Linked DNA regions of Homo sapiens: region 2 is linked to region 1. A link means that fine-mapping ties the variant in region 1 to the expression of a gene that starts in the linked region. Tissue or cell type: pancreas. Region 1 holds a variant in brackets; the other region holds the start of a gene. All regions are shown on one strand. Distances are from middle to middle.

Evidence for each region. PIP is the estimated chance that this variant, and not a neighbour inherited with it, causes the effect.
Region 2: it holds the start of PROX1, and the variant in region 1 is fine-mapped to the expression of PROX1 in pancreas (GTEx, PIP 0.95).

Annotation. Positions count from the first base shown.
Region 1 is chr1:213,657,227-213,665,333 of GRCh38, reverse strand. It overlaps a transcript of RPS6KC1 not described here. Among named protein-coding and RNA genes, the nearest start is that of LINC00538, 260 kb to the left of the region's middle. The variant T/A (reference allele first, on the strand shown) is at 4,034.
Region 2 is chr1:213,984,836-213,992,942 of GRCh38, reverse strand. It overlaps PROX1 (prospero homeobox 1), which reads right to left and starts at 4,970. Exons shown (of 5, transcript NM_001270616.2): 1 at 4,460-4,970. PROX1-AS1 (PROX1 antisense RNA 1) reads left to right here and starts at 6,790. Exons shown (of 6, transcript NR_037850.2): 1 at 6,790-6,874. RefSeq lists enhancers at 3,586-4,089, 4,090-4,593.

The DNA of each region.
Region 1 (8,107 bases):
CTTATTGCTTATTTGAATATTTTCTACATTAAGGATCTTAACCTCTTTGTCTACATTTTGGATACTTTTGTTAAATTTTTAATTTTTTTTATTTTGACATCGAAAAATGTGTTGTTGTTGTTGTTGTTGTTGTTTTTGCTTGTTTCCACAGTTTTATTTATTAAGATGTTCCTTTATTCTTCCTGGCTTTGGCATTATGCTTTAATTGCCCTATTCTGTCATGTCCTAATGAATGTATTGTGTATCTGTAAAATGATAAGAATTAAATAAGATAATCTCTAAAGTATGTTCTATAAAGCCCATGATTTTACATGATCCAAAACCTCATTAATTCAGACAAAATCCACGGTAGCCAGTATAAATGACTGAATACAATGTTTACCAAAGTATTCATTTTAACAAAAACATTTCATCCTTTTCATATATATATGCTCTTTCATATATAAAGCATAACTATGAATTAAGCAACAAAACATTGCTACGTAGAGGTCTCATTCATTTTTTACCATTAAAAACAATCAAAATCACTCCTTCAAATATATTTATTCAACACCATACTAAAGATCTTAATTATTGCTATCCTTTCCTCAGCCCCACAAAGTCGTGGACCAAGGAGGCCATGCAACATGGACCAGGCAGGGGCATTGTTTCCATAGTAGCCAGCCCATTGGCTGGACAGCAACCTATGGCCTATATGGTTTATTAAAAAACAAAACAAAACAAAAAACTGATGAACAAAAAACTGATGAACAAGAGTTGGGCCAATCAGATTTCTTCTTTAGTTATATGTTGTTTGGAAACTGATAGAATAAACCTGTTAGCAGTAGCAGCTGCAGCAGAAGGGGCATACTAGAGAGAGCTAGACTGAGACATTAACGCTCTTTCATGTGTATGCTGCCATTTTAAAAAGTCCAGCTTCATGGACATGTGACCAGTGGTCAAATAAGGGCCTGTGTTTACAAGGACCCCATGCTTGGATTTAATGCTTTCTTTTATTTTTAAACTTGGGTTTTGTTAGTGAATTCCATGTGACAATGGAACATGCTCCTGAGGCCGGAGCCTCAGCAGCCACGGTCCTGCTTCCCGCTGCCCCCTCTTGCCTTGTGTTCTCAGAGCGCTCCCCTCCCCACCCCGCCCCCCCGCTCATTTCTTTCTACCTTCTCCTCCCCTGCCTCTCCCCACATCACCCAGCAATCAGTGTGCCATGGGGAGCTGCCCTGTGTGCTGCAGGGAGCTGGGTGCAGGCCAGAGAAGGTCAGGCTGCTGTGACCTGCGGCATCTGCACATGGGTGAGGTGGCGGCTCTCCCTGCCCTAGGCTGCCACATCACAGCTCATTTGGTAGGAGATTCAGTGGAACAAGTCTTTGGCCCTCCCCTGATCTATGTACCTAGTGCACCATGCATGGAAGTTGCTATTCCATTGGGTCCTGGGGATTGCCTGTCTGCCTTGGACTGCAGCTGTGGGCTGATGGGAAGGAGGGATGCCTGGCTTGACTTTCTCACCCCTTAGTGGGGAATGGCTTCTGTCTGGTGGCTGGCAAGAAAGGAGAACCCAGCTGTGAGTGCCAAGTCTCAGGGCCAGGCACCTAGGCACCTGTGAGGGTCTGCACCTGCCCTGTGAGTATTTCCATGCTCGAGGAAGGATAATATTGAATAGCAAATAGGTGGAGACAGAAAGAGACAGAGAGGAATAGAGAAAGAAAACTTTATAACTTTAATGGTGCCTTTTTCTGCTTTTTGAACAAGGGATGCTTCATATTCATTTTGCAGTGGCCCTAGCAAATCATTTAGGGTGTCTTGACTCTAAGCCACCAGCAGAAGTGATTCGTGGGGAAAAGAGAACAGAATAGATGTAGAGAGAGAAACTGAAATGCTACAAGAGGAAGAGGTAGCCCAGGAACCTGATGAGTTCTCAATTCCAGTCCAAGGGTGTCTTATAATCAACACTTCTTTCTTGAGGTAATGGAAGAAGTTCTCTGCATCTTGCAACCAAACAAACTTGCTTAAATGATTGAAGTAAACACTCTCTGAGAGACAGGTGCTAAAGGGGATACAGAGGTTTGCAAGTCACAGCTCTTGTCTCAGTGAGATTTCAATGAGGTATAAAAACACAATAAATAGTAATAGTAAGAGCAATAACAGGTAACCCAAAGGGCACTGATGCCATGCTAAGCACTTTGCATACATTTAATCCTCACAATAACCCAATAATCCCATGAGAAAGGAATCAATAGTTTACAAATGGGGCAACAGAGGTTTAGACAGTGCACTTGGCAGAGCTAGGACCTGCCTTGCAGCCTATAATAAATCTCAGAGTGGTATAAAACACTAACATATTAGCGAGGGTGGACAGGCTACTTCTAGCTGGGAAATTCAGGGAACACTTCTCGGATGCTGTAGCTCACCAATTGGTGGCTACTTATGGAAGGGTTACTGAATGAACAGGATTGAATAAGTGACCAAACGAAGGAATCAAATTGAATTGGATTGAAAGCAAAGATTTGACAGGCAAAAATAGAGGCAGATCATTAGTAAAAGGGCTGTGATGGAAAAGACCACAGTGAGCTTGGGCATTGGGAAATAGACCAGTTTGGTTGGAGTTGAGGTTACGTAAAGGGAGCAGGAGGCTGATGAGATGGGAAATGAAGAGACCCAGGCTGACGGTTTCATTCTATTTGGTGGGGAATCTTGAGCCACAGAACATCTATGCGCAGGGGAGCTATGATTAAAGTCATGCTTTGGAAAAGTTAACTCTGGGCCGGGTGCAGTGGCTCACGCCTGTAACCCCAACACTTTGGGAGGCTGAGACGAGTGGATCACTTGAGGCCAGGAGTTCAAGACCCAGAATGGCCCACATGGTGAAACCCCATCTCTACTAAAAATACAAAAAAAAAAAAAAAAAAAATTAGCCAGGTGTGATGGCACATGCCTGTAATCCTAGCTACCCTGGAGGCTGAGATTGGAGGATTGCTTGAACCTGGGAGGCAGAGGTTGCAGGAGATCATGCCACTGCACTCCAGCCTGGGTGACATGGCAAGATTCTGTCTCAAAAAAAAAGAAAAGAAAAGTTTACTCTGGTATTTCCGATATTGCTAATTTTTTTTTTTTCTAGGCACACAGGCTAAGCACCTGAGAGCTATCTTTTATTATTTATCCCTTACCCTCCTCACACATCTATGAAACTATTTATTCCTTTAAAGTGTGTCTCGAGGGGAGTGGGGGTCATAAAAAGAAGTTCCGGGAAAGACCTAGAAACATTGGGTTCTCCCTCCAACATACCTTATTTATACCAGTAAGAGATTTGGTAAATGTTTTCTTAGAAATTTCAGTCCAGTTCCAGCCACATTAATAGGAATTCAGTAGAATCTATCTTTTAGGGGTTTTCTGAATCTAGCTAGTCAGAATCTTAACATGAAAATAGTGATATCTCATTCATTCAATCTCCACTATTTTACAAGTTGTGATCCTTCTAACCATCTAGAAAATTTACTTTTATTTAAGCAAACTCATGCCTCATAAACTGGCATAAATTGCAAGTTTAAATGTTTTAAGGGGTATCTACCACATTTAAGAGAGTAGAATAATTTCATCTAAGTCCTACATCCTTATAAACACTATTTGTGTAAGATGGCTGATGTGTCTTCTTTATAAATCCCTAATTGTTTCATTCAAGGAGGTCCTTTCGACACCAAACAGAACTCAGTTCATGTACTTGAGTTATCGTGTGCTCTCCAAAGTCATACAATCGCATTTCTTAAACTCCTCCCCCGCCTCTGACTTCCTCCTGATTCAGACTGACCTTTACCATACATCACTGTAAAGAAATCCCCTTGGGGTGAGTTATCATGGCAAGATGCTCGTCAACTGAAAGGCGAGGTCAGTGCCTCTTTGTAAGGTCTGCTCACACTCTGAAAAGGGCTGCTGGAGGCCTGACAAGGAGGCTCGCCCAGCCCGTTCCACCCCACTGACTTCCAGGCAAGATCGCCCCAGCACACAGCTAAGTGTGTTGTTTTTACCTTCTCTCTACCTGAGA[T/A]CCTGACACCAGCCCCTGGTTTCTGCAATAGGACATGGCTTGGACTCACCCAGTTCACGTAGCAGTAATTGGGTCAGTCCTATAGTTATCAACTTATTTATAATTTCAAAAAAGGCTGCATGTCTGGCAAAGGATTCCCCATTTGCTAGGGTAGAAAAAAAGGGGGCAGCTTAAGCTCTGGGGTCTGAAGGCTGCGATAAAATTAACCAGTAGCCTGAGGGACTTCAACCATACACAGATAATTTTCTTGAGATGACAATTGTTCTAGGCTGAAATAGACAACTCGGGAAGGCTGTGGAAACTTCTGCTCTCAAGATTCAAAATATAGCACACAGCCTCACTACCTGGGCTTGTCTCTACAGGCAAAATGATCTCTGAAATCTAGCTGCAGGACTCAACGACTGGCGAATTTGTGCATGACACAATCATAATCAATGGGAAGGATTTGTTCCATTGCTCAGATAAAACCAGTTGCATTATTTCATCGCCCTACTGCATACATGGGGGAGAATGGTGCTTTTTCTGCAAAACTACTCTGCCATTTTTGGGCACAGTTTTGTTGTAAGATTGGTGTGCAATAGAATGAAGAGTAAAGAAAGGGATAAATGAACCATAATTTGTAGGCATGAGTCTGTCATTCCATTCTCCCACTAATATTATAGCTTTGGGTGTATTTGAATTACTTTTATATATGCATCTGTGTTGCTAGGCTCTTTAAAATGAGCTACCTAGAATCTTCCACAATGTTTGCAGTTAGTTTGGCACACAGTAGGTACAAAATAAATAAATTAGGCGCATGAGCAACGACTGATTTTGGTTTTTCTAATTGGGGCTTGTTTTTCTAAATGGAGATCTTAGGGCTCCGCCCATGGGTGAAGCATATCACTGCCTTTCCTTCTACATTCCAGACATGTGCCCAGAGGCCTTCCAATGAGGAGGGTAGAGTCTAAAATGAGCTCACTGGCATTAAAATCCCCTACAGCTTCTGGACATGAAACTTGGACATTTTTTACATTCCCTAGAGATACTGGCCTACATTAAAATTTCAGTCCCTTCCCGTTCCTCCTCCCTGTCACTCCAACTAAAAGAATTATCTAAACATGTCCCTCACACATTTATTACAAAATAAACTTGCCTCCTAGAGAGAGGGTAGCTTTAGGGGCTCCTGTAGCCAAGCTAATATGCCCAAAGCTAATATTAAACCAGTAACCTCGGATCTCCAACAGAATACCTAGGGGCCACCACACCTGAGACAGCTTGTTCTCTCAGCCAAGACACACACCCGGCTCTAGGTATAAAGTGAATTTCCCATGTGAAATTTTTCCTGATGCCCTGACTCCTTTGCAACCTGACCTTAAAGGAATAAGTTCAATGCTTAATTATGGATGTATTATCAGGTGTAAACAAGGAATGTAGATGATAGCTTGGCTAAGGTTAGATAAACGACTTCCCTTTTCCCTATCATTTTCTTTTTTTAAAACCTGATTGATCCAAAGATATTTATTTTTGACTGCTGTTGGGAACAGTATGCACTTACAGGCACATATGCACCTCTGGTCTATTTACACATAATTATTGTTTGAGGAATAAATGTTAAGAGAGTTTCATTGTAAGAAATCGAAACTTGAACATTTATGCCAGTAAGCAGTTAAAAAAAAAAAAACCCTGAATACAAGAGAAATTCTTTAATGAAGGAAGTCATTAGTTTTGATTTGAATTTAAATGTTGTAGCAACTTTCCTTTTGGTAACTAATAAATAATAACTTAGTTGTACGTGATGATGACCATTTTCTTTCTAAGAAAATGTTCTTTGGTAACTGGTACTAATAGAGGACAGTCTGAAAAGAAGAAATCAATCATTGGTTTCTTGAATCTAAATTTTATAGCATTGGAAAATGTTCTAAAGGAAGGATTCTTGGATGGCATGAAGTACCTGGCTCCTAGGACAGCGTATCAGAATAAGAAAGGATGGAACAGGGTTTCAGTGATCCAAGCTTCTCACTCCAGCCCTTCCTCCCTATAAGAATATCAGCTGAGGCCAGGTGTGGTGGCTCACACCTGTAATCCCAGCACTTTGGGAGGCCAAGTCGGGTGGATCCCTTGAGGTCAGGAGTTCGAGACCAGCCTGGCCAACATGGAGAAACTCTGTCTCTGCTAAAAGTACAAAAACTAGCCAGGTGTCATGGCAGGCACCTGTAATCCCAGCTACTTGAGAGGCTGTGACAGGAGAATCGCTTGAACCCAGGAGGCGGAGGTTGCGGTGAGCTGAGATCCTGTCACTGAGCTCCAGCCTGGGTGACAGAGGGAGACTCCATCTCAAAAAAAAAGAAAAAAAAGAAAAGAAAAGAAAAAAGAATATCAGCAGAGTGATCTAGTCTTACTAACACATGTAATACATGTTTGTCTTCAGGTGCGGAGGGCTGGAGATGCAGAGAACCCCAGTCAAGGTTAAATTCAGTGAACAAAAGCAATGGAGAGAGCAAAGTAGGGGATGAGAAAGCCTCAGCAGGCATTTCCCCCAGTTTCCTTGGTCAAACACTACTCACCATTTCCTTTTATAACTCTGAGCTAATTACCTTGGACTTGTTCACAGTCCCTCTATTTATGCAATCCAGAATAACGTTTGATTTATTTTATTGCTCCAGAACCTGGTGCCAAAGACATTAACATTTTATCCGCCTGTGCACTTGGATTTATCCTCTCAAATCTATTGCCCATGACCAAGGAAGATCTGTCTTGCCTCTAGATTTCTTGTCCCTAGCCTCATTACCTTATTTGTCACTACACTGAGTTGGATAATCAAATTACCTGCCTCTCTTCAGCAAGCACTTGGAGTTTTATTGTCCTTACTGGCCACCTTTGATCCTCCTTCTGCCCCCTCAGTGCTCGCTCTTCAACCCCTGCAGGGCTTCCCTTAATCTTTGGAGGAGGGCAAAAGTGCTTGACTTAGCCGCTTCACCTCTTTCCCTGTGGGCCAAATGTCACCCCCTCTCCGGATCTCAGGATCAGTAACACAACTAGTTCCCCAGGCTCATCTACAAGTGGGTCCCCCAAGCATTTGCAGAAGTTATCCCACATAATGTGATGATACAGGTTCCTAGACAATCTCCCTCTATGTAACCCACACCACTCATATCTGACTCTTTAAACATTACACAAAACACAAGAAAACCAAGCACTCTGGAAGGATTGTTCTTTACAGTGCGCACAAGCATTATGTCATTCATTTCCTCCCTACAGGTGGAATTTGATTGTCCCAATCCAAAATGACCTCCGGAGCCTCTATTTCCTGCACCCCTCAGCCCTCACAGTACCTCAGTATGTGGCTGAGTCATGCAACCATTCATGATACAGTATGTCCACTCTACCAAAATGCAAACTTGCCAAGGCAGGGCCATAGAAAATATGTTATTCATCCATGTACCTCCTAAAATATAGCATAATGCCTAGAATTAGCAGGCTTTCAATAAATATCTGTGAAAGGAAACTGAGAAGCAAAAGAGGGAGAGAAATTAAGAAGATGACTCTAGTGTTGTAAGAGCAGCAAAAAATAGCACCAACCACTTATCATGAAACTGTTTTTCCCCCAAAAGTTTGGTTTTTCAAATTCTTATTTCTTAAGTTCCTGTTATTCATTATTCACATGTGTTTGTATACGTTCTGCCTGGAATTGAATTCTCTAATGCTTTATTTCCCAAGTCTTAATTTCTGAATCTCTTGTGGTGATGTAATCGTGTTATTCGTTATTTCTTTAGTTTCTTTGGTTTCTTTTAGGAAATGCATGTCTGCTTCTAACATTTGTCCCCCATCTTCTGAGAATTCCAAGGCAAAAAAATATTTTTTTAAATAATTAAATAATTACATTATTTTTTTTAGCTACATCTACCTCTTTTTAAATTACCCTCCAATTCTTCATCATCCAACTATCGCCTTCAATGACCCCTATGTTCCTTACACACTTGAAATTTTCCCCATTATTTATCTTAACCTTCAGTGCAATCTCTTTTTCATTCACTACCTTTGCCTTCCTTATCTTTTTTTACACTCCCTGGACTTTGTTCAGTAATCTTCCCT
Region 2 (8,107 bases), 330 kb before region 1:
AAATTCTAAGGAAACTGATGACTTAAGGTTAGGAGGAAAGAATTTTCAGTAAAGAATTTCAAAGGAACACTGCAGCGTGAAGTATAAAGTGGTTAAGTGCTCTACTTTAATAAAGAAGTTATTTCGGGGAGGAGGATTCAACTTTTACTGCATCTATCTGGAGTCCAGATTCTGGACAAAGAAGTGTTTCATTACGGTAATTATCCAGATAGTTCAGACAAATCTTTTATGAGGCAGGGAGAGTGTAAGGTTGGCATGGTTTCCTGCTTGGATTATTTAGATGATCTGTCTTTGTTGATAAAATTATTTGAAGAAATTGTGCAAGCCTACACTTGACTTCTTTTAGAAAATCATCTTTGTATGGGCCTCTAATCTACTTGGGTCAACCTGGTTATGAAATTTCAAATAGGATATCATTAACAAAGAATATTTCAAATCAATCTGGAAATTAGTGATTCAAAGGGGAAAAATCAGATGGTCTGATTTAAGTAGCCCCTGAATCATTAAATTGTCCCCTTCACTACATTCAAGAATTTGTTTCTGCTAATTAGCAACTTTTTCTTCAGAGATATTGGAGATATTTCTGCTCCCTATCAGGTTAAGAAAACCTTTGATATTTATTTTGAAGAACTCACTTGACATAAGTTAATACCTAAATTAACTAAGATTGCGTTATCAGGTTTTTAAATTTCCTGTCATAATATACTTCTCAAATCATTTAAGATTTCATTTAAGATTCTCCCATCCCATCAAAAATTCCACACACTTTTCACCTGCAAAATGAACACAGAACATTTTCTGAGACATGCCTAAAATATTAATTTCTACTTGTTTAAAAAGTAACAACTTATCAGATAGGTAAATAAGACAGAGTGTGAAATAATCTTAAGAAAATACACTTTTTTCTTTTTGCAGAAAATTGAACTCTCTAAATGTCCTTTGAGAATGCACAGGCAATAAGTCTGAGAAATTCCTTATGTATATGGTTCCTTTCCAAGTTACACAGGTACTTAATTAAAATCCTATAATGATACATCATGCACAATCTATTTTCATATTATAACATCAGTCACATTTTATAATTTCTTTTGTTAATCTGAAACCTAAAACTTCTTATATTAACACTGCAAATTCAAGACAATCCCTAAAATGATATAAGACATTCATGAAAAGAGGCCTGTTTGAGTTTTAAACAAATAAAGAGGAAGTCTGGCAACTTACAGAATAAGCCAGCTTAGGTTTTAAGATAGCATGTGCTGCTTATAGAGGAATGATGCTAGGAAATGAATAAAGTGAGAACAAAGATGCATGTTATGTATGCATGACTTTTTTTTCCCACAAGGTGGTGATTAAACTAAATAGAATTCTGCATAATGGACACATAAAATATCAATAAGTGCCAAGCACAGATAACCCCTATTAAAAATAAAGCAAATGAACATAGGCATAGATGACATTTTAATTACCAAAGAACTTCAAAAGCATCCAAGGAAAGTATTGGGTGTGTGTGTGTGTGTTTGGGAGGTGGGGGGACGTTAATGTTGAAGTCTACAGAATAAATGACACATACGATCTCATTTTCATGGAAACAATAACTACCCAAACACAAAGCCAATGAGCAAAAACCATTTGCCAACCAACCTATTCCTGTGCAACTCAGTCTACAGAAGTAGTCTGTTTAAAGATAATTTTAAAAGGTCAAGTTTTAAGAAGCCAGATATAGTGCTTACATTGAATTCCCAACAACTTTCCTCACACATCAAGCCACAGTCCTTAGCTTCACCTATTTTACTATTACATATACATGTCCATGTTTTAACCCATGGACAAGTTAATGTGAATACTCTCGTTTTCCTCCCTCAACACACACAAAAAATTTCATTTTGGAAATACTCAGAAGTTCTTGCAAGAAATTCCCTGTAGAACTGACTTCTCACATCTTGCATCAGAATAGAAAAGCACAGTTACCTTCTCATGTACTTGAGATTTTCTTTCTCCATCAAATTCATATCTAGGACATTTGGCACATGTCTGGGACAATGACAGGCTCATTCTACTTTATGAGATTATTTAACATATGACTTGAAAGAGTTTATGTACATACCTATTCTTTCTGGGCAAGGAGAAAGCATGCTTAAAAAGATAAGCTTTAACAACAGTAACACTTTCAAACTGACTTTGGAATTCTTGGCAGTTACACACCACTCATTGCTATCCAAAGCATACACCACACACACACAAACACACACACACACACACACACACACACACACACACACACACGACAGTTCTCTCTCTCTCTCTCTCTCTCTGCCAAGCACAGACCTGGGAGATAGGCATAAACTGGTAGGAAGCAAAGGAAAAGTCAGTCTCCCTCCACCTGCTGCCTAAAGTGGGGGTGCTTTGGGCTGACTGGCAGACAGAAGCCTGGGACACAGCCTCAGCAGTAGACTGCCAATATCCTTAAGAAAAATAAACAAACACATACCAACTTGCCCCCACCCCCCACCCCAAGAACTCACATGGCAGGGCTCAAAAGAACAACAGCCCAATTCCCATTAGCCCAGACAATCCTATTAACCAGGACAACCATAAATTCATAAACCTCTCCAACCCTCGAGCAAGCATTGTGGTCTAGAGCTGTACAGACACACACAGACACAGAGGAAATTTGCACCTGTCTTTCTTGACACAACACACCTGTCAGGCCCTGCCCATGCGCACTCTGCTAATAGATTTCTGCCTACCTAGGTTAGGAAAGGAAATGAGTTCTTTTTTTTTTCTTTTCTTTCTTTTTTTTTTTTTTTTTAAATAAGGGAGGGCATGAGTGGAAAAGAGAACAGGAGAAGGGAGTCTTCTAGCCTTGACTTTGCGAGGAGGCCACCCTGTGCTTCCTCTGTTTTTATAAGCTCAAGGAGACAGCACAGATCTTCTCGGAAAAATAAAAACAAGCAGGTGAGTTTCCAGCCTTCCCCCAGGCAGAGTAGCCTTCTGGGTTGCCAAGAACAGCAGTTTCACACTCCAACCTGCCTCCTTGAGCTATTTAAGACTAAGCACCACCCCTCCTTCTAGTTCTGTTCTCTGTCTGCCTGGAGGGCTCTCAATTTCCCAAGAAGCTGGGAAGGGGCCAGAGACCTGGGAGTCTGTGGAAAGCTACTTACTCCTCCTTTACCATCCCCACGCTCCATCACTCCACCAACCTTCAGCTTCAGCAGGGGGAGTAACGGGCTGGCACACCAGAAGAATCAACAACTTGCTAAACTGGACTTTGGGTGATGTCTCCCCCCGCCCACTGCGTCCCCCTCCTGATCTGCTCAGGCAAGATAGCAGCTCTTCCCTCCCTCTTCCCGCCCTCCTCACTAGTCTTCCCAGTAACAATTACTCTCACCTCTCCTGTCCTCCCTCCCCAGTCCTCCTAACTGGGGCAAAACGGTAGGTACCACCCAGACGAGACCAGACCGAAGCTGCCCAACACCATAGTCTGCCAGCGATGGCTGGGAGATTCATCGCCTCCCATTTCTGCTGCCCAAGAACCCCCTACTCTTACCCGGCCCGCGATCCTCCGGTCCTCCTCGTGCTGGTGTCCCAATCCCACCGCCACGCGACCCCCCGAGCCTCCCGGTGCCGCCTTACCCTACTCAACTTGACCCAGCCCTGGGTCCAGGAGCTCGGAAGAGGGGCGCCGCGCGCGTTTCCCGGGACCCATCACCGCTCCCCTCCAAGCCGGATTTCCACAATTCGGCTTCGACAGCGTTTTGAGACGAAAGTAACAGAGCGCCCCCCCACCTCCCTCTCTCCTCCTCCCAGTTCCCGGTCCTCTGCTGGGGTTAAAAAAGGAGAAGTGAAAGGTATGCAAATGACAAGCAAATTGGAAGAGCCGGGAAGAAAGGCAGCTATAATAAACAAGACAAAGAGAAAGGACAAGGGGACCGGCCCCGGAGTTTTAGCCTGGGGAGATCGGAAGGATGGGGTTTGGCGGAAAGCGGGGATCTCCACGAACAAAAAAGCGACCCGGTCCCTCTCGCGGTCCTCTCTCCTGAGAAGAGAGAGCAGGAGAAAGAAGGAAAGGGAGCAAACGCCTCCTCACACCCCAGAAACAGTACACAAAAGGTGACAAGATCAGCGACAAGTCCAGCAACATCAGCCTCCCCCCCATCGCCACCGCCACCCCCAGCCACCAGCAGGAAAGAGAAAGAAATAAAAGCCAAGAGGATCACTTACTCTTAGGAACTGGGAGGAGCGGAGCGCTGAGTTCCACGGAGGCTCCCGCTTAGAAACTGTTTAGAGGCTATTTTATTATGATTCATTTGAATAACACCATTTTCTCCTGGGGGGAATAATGTTTACACGGGTCTGAGTAATGGGAGGCTCTTTTCTTCCTTTCTCATTCAAGAACAAGACAGTGCAAGTGATTCTGGAAAAGGGGAGGGACTCACGAGGGGAAGAAGAAGATACTTACGCGGTGCAGGGAGCAGTGGGACCGAGCCTCTCTCTCTCTCTCTCTCTCTCTCTCTCTATCTCTCTCTCTCTCTTTTTTTTCCCCCGGCAGAGAGAGGAAAACACGCGAGTGCACACACGGTGATATCTTGCGGGTGATGAATATGATAATTGGACAAGGGACGGTGAGTCTGTGCGACAGCGAGCGAGCGAGCGGGGCGAGTGGGAGAGGGAGAGGGGAGAGAGAGGCGGGAGGGGAGGGGAGACGAGAGAAGAGGAGCAGGGGAGAGGCGAGGAGAGGGAAGAAGAGGAGAAGAAAAGAAGAGGAGCTAAGGGAAGAGGAGAGAGCAGGAGAGGAGGAGAGAGAAGAGCGGGAGGAGAGGAGAGAGCAGCAGAGGAGGAGAGAGGAGAAGGGTAAAGAAGAGAAGAGGAGCGAAGCGGAGAGGGAGCAGGCGGACCCGGCGAGAGCTCTTTTGCGCCGCTCTGCTTTCCCCGGCTGCAATGGTGTATTATTTCAGAGCGCTCCCTCAGCTGAGGGCTCCGCTCCACAACAAGATTTACTTTAAGACACAGCTGAAGGAAACAGGAAGACTGCACGTCACAGTCTATCTGACGTACCCGGCCCCAGCACCCAATCGCGAGGCGCCTTCGGATTCAAGGGGGGATAGCAAGGCAAGAGAACTTGGGAGGAAAAAAAAATATAAAAGGGGTGGGGGTGAGGGGCTGGGAAGAGAGGAGGGGAGAGGGGCCCTGCGCTCCCCCTCCCCGGCCTCCATCCCCGGCCCCCACCCCCACCCCCACCCTGCCACAGCTTCGGGACGACTGGATCGCCGCGCCTGGGCCGGAGCGAGCCATCTGCGGGCACTATGCAAAGCGGGAGACGGCGCGAGCGGCGCCCGGCTCACACTAGCTCTTCCAGGACGCAGGTCTTTTTTTTTTTTTTTCTTTTTCTTTTTTCATTTCCCAGATACAGCTGATCGAGTTCGCCGAGTGGCCGAGCGAGTGAGCGCTCCTCCGACTTGGGTGGAGGAAGGCACGGAAAAGTATACGGGAGAAAAAGTGGGGGTTTTAGGGGTGGGGGTGGCATAGGAGGAGGGAGGGGGGGATCTGCAAATCATTCCACTTTTTAAACGATCATAGGTAGTGTCAAGGATACGTGTCACCCTTGGTTCCTTTTAAAGGGGAGGTGGACAATAAAATACAGGTAGGTTTGGTATTAAAATAATAGGTGCCAGAGGTTTCACATCGGGTCCGCTGCATCTGTTATTAGACGAAGATCAACATTGGCTGAGTCCCAGTTTATCTCCAGTCCAAATTATCAGGAAGAGGAATATTTACCCTTGGTTACCTCTGACATTAGTTGGATTGTAGGTAAAGCAGCCTTTAAAAATATATATGTTGCAAACATCTGGCGATTACCCTTCACTAATTCACTCGCCCCAGAAAGACCAAAGATAGCTGTTCAATACAGGATTTACACAGTTTTGACGCCTGGGCAACAAACTTTAAAGTTTATTAGGCAAGAAATTTCAAACGCATAAATCGCAGGCTCTAAAATAAAGCCCTAGAAAATTTACTTTGGTTTGACATTTCTTGCTTGAAAAATAACCAGCAAAATTTCTTTAGATAATGTGGCTCTTAAAGATCTCCTTGGGCTTTGCAAGTTACAAATGCAAGCGAGCCTCAGCCGCAGCTAGAACGTCCCTTTCACCGGGCACAGTAAACGGCTTTTAATAAAGCAGCCGCGTTTATGACCTAAAGATCCTATAAAAGCTGGGACTTGCAAGAGCTGCGAAGCAGAAACATTCATACATAGTCTATTAGACACTCATTTTTGTAAGTAGGAGGAGGACAAGTAGTCTTCGTGTGTCCCTCAAATTTAATCAGATCAAAGGTTGAATCATGCTGTGTCGTGACAACAGGGTATTTATGAGGTGTGTTACAAGTACACTGGCCAAACACTACCAATGTCTTCTGCGACACACACACACACACACTCCTTCCTAGGGAATTTACAATTTCAGCCTCAAATTCACCAAACCGTAAAGAGGATATTAAGCCCTCCCTTTGAATAAGAATAGCGATGTTAGTATGTCCGAGTCTATCCCGGCAGGAAACTTTTGGCACGAATTTCAAACAGTGAAAAGGAGAAAAAAAATTAGGTCGGTCAGGTTAGGTGTCGGCGATAAGAAAAGAGATTGCGGGAGCATCCCCAGCCTTCTTCTTTCCCCTTTTGCCGCCCCCACACACTCCCCCCACGCGTCTATCACGGAAGCAACACAGAGGAGCGCACACGCACCACTCACACCTCCAACTATTGACTGTTGTATCAGGTGTTCTAACCGGGATGTGACAGTTGAGGCTGGGAGCAGAAATAATCAACATGCCCATTAGATACAGGACGGAATAATGCTTCTATTGGTTGGGTCCCTTCGAGGTAAGCGGGTGTATTGAGCGGGGAAACTTGGGATCTGAGAATGGATCAAAGCTACTTTCTTTCTTATTTTTCGTCCTACTAGTTTTCTTTAAGAATCTTGGTTTGTACATATAAGTTAGCGCCAGCCCACAAATAAACTGGTAGGAGTAAGGGCTATATACCTTTCCACACCTTAAAACCATCTGCTCAGTTTGACATTTAAAAGGGCGGAGAGCAGAGAAGGAGGAGGGGGGAGTAGGGGGAAGAAAGGAGTCAGGGACAGAGAAAAAGATTCAAACGCGAAAAAAATGGCTTGCACTTTAGCCCACAAGTTTGTGTCAATTGCACATAGCGCTTGAATGCACGTTTTGCACACACCACGCCCGGGAACTGGCGGCGGGAAAAGTTCCCTGAGAACCCCAGTAAGTCCTGTGTCACGCCGTGGGCAAAAGCAGGCCTGAGTCGAAGTCGGGGTAACCCGCTTGCCGAACAAGGAAGCTCTCCCACCCCCAGCCTCGGCGGCAGAGGCTCCCGGCTCGCGACGCTCTGCCGCGGCGGTTCGCAGCCCGCATTAGGGCGCAGGAGCGGCGACTTGAAATAGGAGCGCGCGCCACGCTAGGCGAGCGAGATCGGTTCGCAGCCCAGCTCCGTGAGCTGCCTCGGCGCAGCCCTGTCCCGTGTCCTGTCCTCTACTGTCGGGGAGGCGTACAGGCCAGGCTCCTGGCAACCTCTCTTGCTAGAGCTGCGGCATTCTCCTGGGTCTCGGGCTGCCCTGGACAAGACTTGAGGCCCGAGCCCCCTATCTCGGGCGACTCCCGCTTTGTTTTCTGATAGGGGAGAAGCCTGGAGACAAGGAGTCGCCTAGATATTGGCTCCATCTCTGAAACCAGCCGCCAAGCCTAGGGTTAAGACAACTCCTCCCTCCGCCCCACTTCCAACACAACCCCAGTAACTTAGAAGTTAACGCAAGTTCTGACCGGTCTTGTAACACACTCTATCCGTGCAGGTTGCATTTACTTATTTATCTGAAGGGTGATCTGTGTGTTCTTAGACAAACTCGCAGTTATCACCCATGCATCTGGTTCTGGGTTAAATACACTTCGCCTTGACATTTGCTCGGTGTATGCTCACGCCTCCTGTTCTTTCTTAAAGCTGTTAGGTGGGGGCAGGAGGGAAGACAGTGTGTATAAGTAATTTAAAACCTTACAAACAACTGTTATCAGATCCTAAACAAACCAATTCTGAGAATTACAA